Linked DNA regions of Homo sapiens. The protein of the gene in region 1 purifies or fractionates together with the protein of each later gene. This does not show direct contact. Each region holds a gene or a part of one and is shown in the gene's direction. Other genes may lie near its edges.

What was found. Proteins that work in one complex are often made in the same cells at the same time.
Region 2: the proteins of METTL5 (region 1) and USP36 purify together in Homo sapiens (affinity purification with mass spectrometry, with the first as the bait; one study listed by BioGRID). This does not show direct contact.

Annotation. Positions count from the first base shown.
Region 1 is NC_000002.12:169,818,388-169,822,038, reverse strand, and holds part of METTL5 (rRNA N(6)-adenosine-methyltransferase METTL5), read left to right. Parts: coding exon 1-96; intron 97-765; coding exon 766-947; intron 948-2,395; coding exon 2,396-2,478; intron 2,479-3,651. UniProt on the Homo sapiens protein: Catalytic subunit of a heterodimer with TRMT112, which specifically methylates the 6th position of adenine in position 1832 of 18S rRNA.
Region 2 is NC_000017.11:78,799,315-78,802,965, reverse strand, and holds part of USP36 (ubiquitin carboxyl-terminal hydrolase 36), read left to right. Parts: intron 1-110; coding exon of another isoform or gene 111-430; coding exon 431-642; intron 643-3,197; coding exon 3,198-3,299; intron 3,300-3,651. UniProt on the Homo sapiens protein: Deubiquitinase essential for the regulation of nucleolar structure and function. Required for cell and organism viability.

The DNA of each region.
Region 1 (3,651 bases):
CCATAACACTTATGATGACATTGAAAATAAAGTCGTTGCAGATCTAGGATGTGGTTGTGGAGTACTTAGCATCGGAACTGCAATGTTAGGAGCAGGGTACGTAATGCAATATATGCTATTTGGGTATTGGGTGGCTTTAATAAGGAGCATCAATGGGATTAACTGAATTATATTTATGAGACTCCACAGAATGAGATATAGGGAGCAAAAATCTGATACTGAATACATTTTGAATGGGCAGAAGATCTAAACAAACTACAAAAATTAAATAAAAATGGTGAAAGCAGCAGTTCCTTTTATACAAACCTGAGTTTCCAACCCCTGCCGGGTTTGGAAATTATGCTGTTACACTTGACTGGGCACAGTGGCTCATGCCTGTAATCCCAACACTTTGGGAGGCCAAGGTGGACAGATTACTTGAGCCCAGGAGTTTGAGACCAGCCTGGGCAACATGGTGAAATCCCATGTCTACAAAAAATACAAAAATTAGCTGGATGTGGTGGTGTGCGCCTGTGGTCCCAGCTACTTGGGAGGCTGAGGTGGGAGGATTGCTTGAGCAGTGCAAGATGGCACCACTACACTCACCTGGGTGGCACAGCAAGATCCTGTCTGAAAAAAGAAAAAAAAAAAGAAGAAAACACTCACTCTTACTTTGCTAATTGGGTTAAAAAGATATATGGTTTAAAAAAAAAACAGCTAATTTTGGTTTTGTTTTTACTTGGGAGCTATAAGTCGCCACTCTTTGTATGTGTTTTGTATTTATAGGTTGTGTGTTGGATTTGACATAGATGAAGACGCATTGGAAATATTTAATAGGAATGCAGAAGAGTTTGAGTTAACAAATATTGACATGGTTCAATGTGATGTGTGCTTATTATCTAACAGAATGTCCAAGTCATTCGATACAGTAATTATGAATCCTCCCTTTGGGACCAAAAATAATAAAGGTTTGTAACAAGAATCGGGTATATTGGTATATTTATAGAAAAGATTTTAAAACCATTTTTAAGGCCAGGCGCAGTGGCTCAGGCGTGTAATGCCAGTGCTTTGCGAGGCTGATACAGGAGGATCATTTGGGGCCAGGAATTGGTAGCCATCCCGGGCAACATAGTTAGACCCTGCCTCTACCCACACACACACACACACACACACAAATTTTAATTTCCCAAGTGTGGTGGTGCACCTATAGTCCTAGCTACTCAGAAGGTTGAGGTGGGAGGATCACCTGAGCTCAGGTATTCGGGGCTGCGATGAGCCATGAATGTGCCACTGCACTCCAGCCTTGGTAACAGCAAGACCCTGTCTAGAAAAAATTAAACAAAAATAAAAACCATTTTTATCACTGTTTGGGCTAAGTGATTTTATCACTCTTCATTAAATAAACCAAGGCTAAGTGATGTTATTACTCTTCATTAAGTAAACCAATCTCTTATTTGTATAGTTCTTATAATTTACATTTCAATTTGTTTAATGCATGGCTAAGAAACTGAGTTTTTCAACTTTCATTTTTACAAATTTGTATTAAGTAAACAAAGATAGTCATGTCATTTATTGTATATCTCCCATTTGCTTTCAGGAATAATTTGCCTAACCCTTATGAATGAATACGAAACATAGAAAGAATTTTATACTTTCAGAATCTGTTTTTTAATGTCTTAACAGACCCAAGGGTTTCTACATGTGCCCATCAGTAACAGTGACTCACCGTGGCTGTTAATTTTGTGTGTACTGTGGGCAAGGAGGTTAGGAAGTCAGTGAGGGTAGGAAAAGACATGCATAGTTTGGCCGGGCGTGGTGGCTCACGCCTATAATCCCAGCACTTTGGAGGCTGAGGTGGGTGGATTACCTGAGGTCGGGAGTTTGAGACCAGCCTGACCAACATGGAGAAACCCCGTCTCTACTAAAAATACAAAATGAGCCAGGCATGGTGGCACATGCCTGTAATCCCAGCCACTAGGGAGGCTGAGGCAGGAGAATCACTTGAATCCGGGAGGCGGAGGTTGCGGTGAGCTGAGATCATGCTATTGCACTCCAGCCTGGGCAACAAGAGCGAAACAAAAAAAAAAAAGACATGCATAGTTTAAAAAGTACCCTGCCCCCACCAAGATGATTCTGAATAGTACTCTATGCATTTCCTTCTCCCCTTTTTGAAGTCATTAATGTTGGAATATAATATTAAAATTTTTACTTTATCCTTATTTAACCAAGACAGTATAATTCTGGTTTTATTCTACCAGCCTTAAAATAATATTTTGATAGTTTATTTGTACCCTTATTGCTAAAAGATTTCAAGGTGGCTATTTTGAAGTTTGGAAGAAAATATTTCTAAATCCTACTAACTTAATCTTCTGTTTTGAGAAGAGGTAAATAGGAGCTTTTTTTCTACTCTTCACAGGGACAGATATGGCTTTTCTAAAGACTGCTTTGGAAATGGCAAGAACAGCAGTATATTCCTTACACAAATCCTCAACTAGAGAAGTAAGTTCAAATCATCTGATATTCTGTGGCATTGATTTTTAAATTCATGACAGTGTTTTTAGGATTTGCTGTGAATACTAGATACCACAGTATCTATTTCTCCTGACCATTTTGACATGTGAAACTTAAATTTTCCACTTAACCAGCTAGCATCTGATTGGCCTTTTTCCAGGCTATAAGACTTATTTCCTCAAAGATTTTTTTCAGACAGGAACTGTTGCCAGAGGAGAGACTATAACTCAGGAGTAGAAAAGTGTGTTGTAACTAGGATTACTGTATGTTTTGGTTTCTCTGAGTAAGTCTTAGTTGATCCCTTTTGTCCCATTGTCCCGGTGTGGCCTGATGTACTTAAGGGAGGCAGTAAGGCCAGGTTTTCAGAACACTTGAGCCTGGAGCTAAACAGATCTGAGTTCAGAAATCACCTATTCTTACTTTTGCAGCATATAACACATGGAGAGGTGTATAAGTTGTAGTCCAGGAAACTGGGGGAAGGGGCAGTACATTTTTTTAGTGTCAGTATAACACAATAGTTAGGAACAGAGATTCTGAAGCCAGACCAGATTCTCTGGGTTCAGATCCAAGTTCTGCTGCCTCCCAGCTGTTTTCTTGGTCAAGGTAATTGAGTTTCATCATCAAGGTAATTGAGCTTTTGTCATCTATACTATCCTCACCTGTACTCTAAGTGTAAGGGACTGAGAGTACCAATTGTACTTCATAAGAATTGTGAGGATTACATGAGTTAATATTTACAAAGCACTTAGATCAGTGTCTGACATGTGTAATTGCTATGTGTTAGCTATTATTATTTAAATCATACATGTATTCAAAGATTTTAAAGTGCTTTTGTAGGAAAAATACTTAATTCATGTAAATACAGTACGTAAGAACCCAGTTGGAAATAATACATTCTAGTTACATGGTAATGTGATAACCTTTTAAAAAGCATAAAATATAACAGCTAAAAAGAACTATACTGCTAATAATAAGTAGTGGTACATGTAGGCAAGCAACAGGACACAACATAGCTAGTAAATAAATCCTCACTCACTATATATGAAAGCAAACACCAGTAAACATTGGTATCCAAACCTGTGTCCCCAAGAACACCCTCAGGTTTGATGATTCACTAGGAAATCTCACAGGACTCAGCATCTAGTCTTATTCATGGCTATG
Region 2 (3,651 bases), on another chromosome or scaffold:
CTGTCTAAAAAAAAAGAAAAAAGAAAAAATATCTCCTCTGATAAATACCAGTGGATTGATCCTTGAAGCGACAGTGGTGTGGACAGTAGTGTCCATCATTGTATGTGCAGGGCCGTTCAAGGATGCTGGATCAGGTGTCCCGGGCCAGGCCAGGATCTGCCGTTTCATCAGGTCACAGTAGCCTGCACATTGGCGTCAACAGGCTTGGCTCAGTTAGGATGGGAAACGCGACTGGTTTTCCCTCTACTGTCTCCGTGGCTGCGTGTGGAGCGTCCGCTAATGCGTGTGGGGGGAAGAATGTTGCAGGGACCTGCGTGCACTGGGTCACAGCTGGGGTGGCACCTTCTCCATGTTGCAGGCGGGTGTCTGTGCGCTCCTGCTCCCCTTCCAATTTGCTCAGAGCTGACTGCTGCCTCTCACTTCCAAGCAGCTGCTCTCCCATGGGTGATGGTGATCCAGAGGCCATGGAAGAGTCTCCAAGGAAAAAGAAAAAGAAAAAAAGAAAGCAGGAGACACAGCGGGCAGTAGAAGAGGATGGGCATCTCAAATGCCCAAGGAGTGCCAAGCCCCAAGATGCTGTTGTCCCCGAGTCCAGCAGCTGCGCACCATCCGCGAATGGCTGGTGTCCTGGGGACCGCATGGGTATGCACCGGGCGAGGGGGTGGGAACCGCATGGGTGTGCACCGGGCGAGGGGTTGGGGGACCGCATGGGTGTGCACCGGGCGAGGGGTTGGGGGACCGCATGGGCGTGCACTGGGCGAGGGGTTGGACCGCGTGGGTGTGCACCGGGCGAGGGGGTGGGGGACCGCGTGGGTGTGCACCAGGCGAGGGGTTGGGGGACCGCGTGGGTGTGCACCGGGCAAGGGGGTGGGGGACCGCGTGGGTGTGCACCGGGTGAGGGGGTATTGGGGAGTGCACAGGCTGAGAGCAGCGTCTACTGCATCTGAGCTTGGGAGGGTCTGGGAGAAGATGTGGAGGGCCCTGGGACCCTACCAACCTTCACCCCCCACCCCCGAGTCTGCTCCCTTGGGTGATGGGGTTGAAGCTTCCTCATGTGTCACAGCATTTGACTGAAACAGCCCCATGAGAGAGGTTACAGTGCACATGAACTTTAAAACATTCTGTGAATGCCAGTGGGTCTTCCGATTCAAAGCTGTTCTGTCTACAGCTTCTCACGGAATGACTCCCTGAACTCCCAGCCTGAGTTTTTTTCTGTGATGGTTGAATTTAGAAGAGTTGGGTTCAAAAGTGAATCCTCCTCTCCCTCTATGTAGCTGGGCCATTCAGAACATAGCACGGTTTGCTTGCTGTTGGGGACCTGTGTGCTGTGGCTGTCCTTGGGCACCACCCCTCAATCGGAGGGTGTTTTGTTTTCTTTAGGGCTGGCTGGGGCATGCCTTGGCAGGCACCCGCCACAGAACACATTTGTTAAGTGAAGGGGAGAGAAAGTCCTGGCTGCTTGGTATAGGGGGCCGAGCTTGAGTGAGGCCTCCTCTGCAGTCTGGAAGGTCTGATTATGGCAGTGCATCTGGGGGTCAGCAGGACCTTAGAGACTGATTTGTATTTATCCAACTCTTAAGAAAGGAATTTATCGTTAAAAATGAAATGGTATGAAATAAATAGCAAAACGTGGGTGCTAGCTAGTGCCGACTGAGTTTGCTGGCCAGCATGCTCTCAGAAGTACTGCCCTGGCCGGGGGTGGTGGCTCACGCCTGTAATCCCAACACTTTGGGAGGCCGAGGCGGGCGGATCACAAGGTTAGGAGATCGAGACCATCCTGGCTGACACGGTGAAACCCCGTCTCTACTAAAAATACAAAAAGTTAGCCAGGCATGGTGGCGGGCGCCTCTAGTCCCAGCTACTCGGGAGGCTGAGGCAGGAGAATGGTGTGAACCCAGGAGGCGGAGCTTGCAGTGAGCCGAGATTGCGCCACTGCACTCCAGCCTGGGTGACAGAGTGAGACTCCGTCTCAAAAAAAAAAAAAAAAAAAAAAAAATACTGCCCTAACATGGCACCAGAGCTGTGCTCCGTGCCACCCTCGGAGCGAAGTGGAGTTGGCTTGTTAGTGCAAGGGACATCACTTGAGCACTTGCGGTGCGCCAGGGTCCATGCCAGGTGCTGGTTGTGTCTACTGAAGTGCGCCCTGGGCCCTCGGGGCTCCCTGGCAGAGCCAGAACCACACAGTAAGGGCTCATGCTCAGCAAGGAGGCGCTGGGGGCCGCATGGGCTCTTGCAGTCCTGTGCACCTGAGGAGAGTGGCTAAATGGGCAGGGCACCAGACCCAAGGGCAGGAGGCGCAGCACGTTGGGAGCAGGCAGGCTGCTCTGCATGGCCGGGTCCCTGGGCTGTGTGGATGAGATGGGAACCATGGAAGCCACTGTGTGGGGGCAGGGGACACTTAGCCTGGAGCTCACTGAGGAATTGGAGGCAGGGAGAAATGAGGTCAGATTTGTGTGAAGGGAGGTGAGTATATTCCAGGGGCTATGTGGCTAGCTGGGCAGAGGACGAGTTCAGAAAGGGTTTCTAGAACCCGATGAGGGTGGTGAGTGCTGTCCTGGTCCCGAGGTGCTGGGTGGACCTGTGCGGTGTTGCTGATGGGGACCAGGTTCCCCCTGGACAGGGCTTAGGAGGTCGGGCCCCTGATGGCAGCAGCCAAGCTTGGCCGTTCCCTCCACCCCTGTGGCCATCCAGGTGTCAGGCTGGTCCTGGGGCATGGGCCTCTCCCGTAGGTGAGGTGGATTCCATTTAGATCTAGTTCTCTTCTCTCCTTCTGTCAGACTGAGGACTTAACACTACTGGTTAAAGGGGTTTTGGAGGGTTTTTTTTTTTTTGGTTTTTAGCTTTTTGTTATTTTCCATGTTTTCTTTCTCATGAATTGACTTGGACAACAGCCTTCTCTATTGTGTCAGGTCATTAGTAAATTAAGCATGTAAGCATTAGTAAATAAGCATTTAGGCTGGGCGCCATGGCTCATGCCTGTAATCCCAGCACCTTGGGAGGCCAGTGGGAGTCCCAAGGAGTTTGAGACCAACCTAGGAAACATAGTGAGACCCTGTCTTTAAAAAAAAAAAAAAAAAAAAAAAAAAAAGGCAAGCATCCACTTACTGTAAGTTGTTTTATAATTTAAGGTGTGCGATTGCTTCCCCAGTGGGTTATTTTAAACGTCTGTAAATGTTTCTTGGCTGCTCCGATTGCAGGGCTGAGCCAGGCCCCTCCTGTGTCTTGGAATGGAGAGCGGGAGTCTGATGTGGTCCAGGAACTGCTCAAATACTCATCTGATAAAGCTTACGGGAGAAAAGGTACTGATTTGGAGACAGGACTTCTGTTTGCCTTTCATTGGTTGGTTTTGTAGGAGGGAAGGGTGTGGAATGGATCCTGGTGCACTGTGAGTGTGGCGGGCGGGCATCGCTCGGCTTTGAGAATGGGAAGAGGAATCTCAACACTGGCTGGAGTCCTCTTTAAACCCTCAGCCGTGGCACGAAGGTGGCTTCTGTCCGTGGCAGGATCCAGAACAGCTGCTTCTGAGGGTTGGGGCAGGGTGAGGAGCCCCACACATGCTGTGTCTTGGGTAGGGAAGGGGCAGAGTGACGAAGCTCTTCCAACCTGGGTAATGTCACTTCTTGCTCAGAGCATGTTTTTATTCAGACTTCG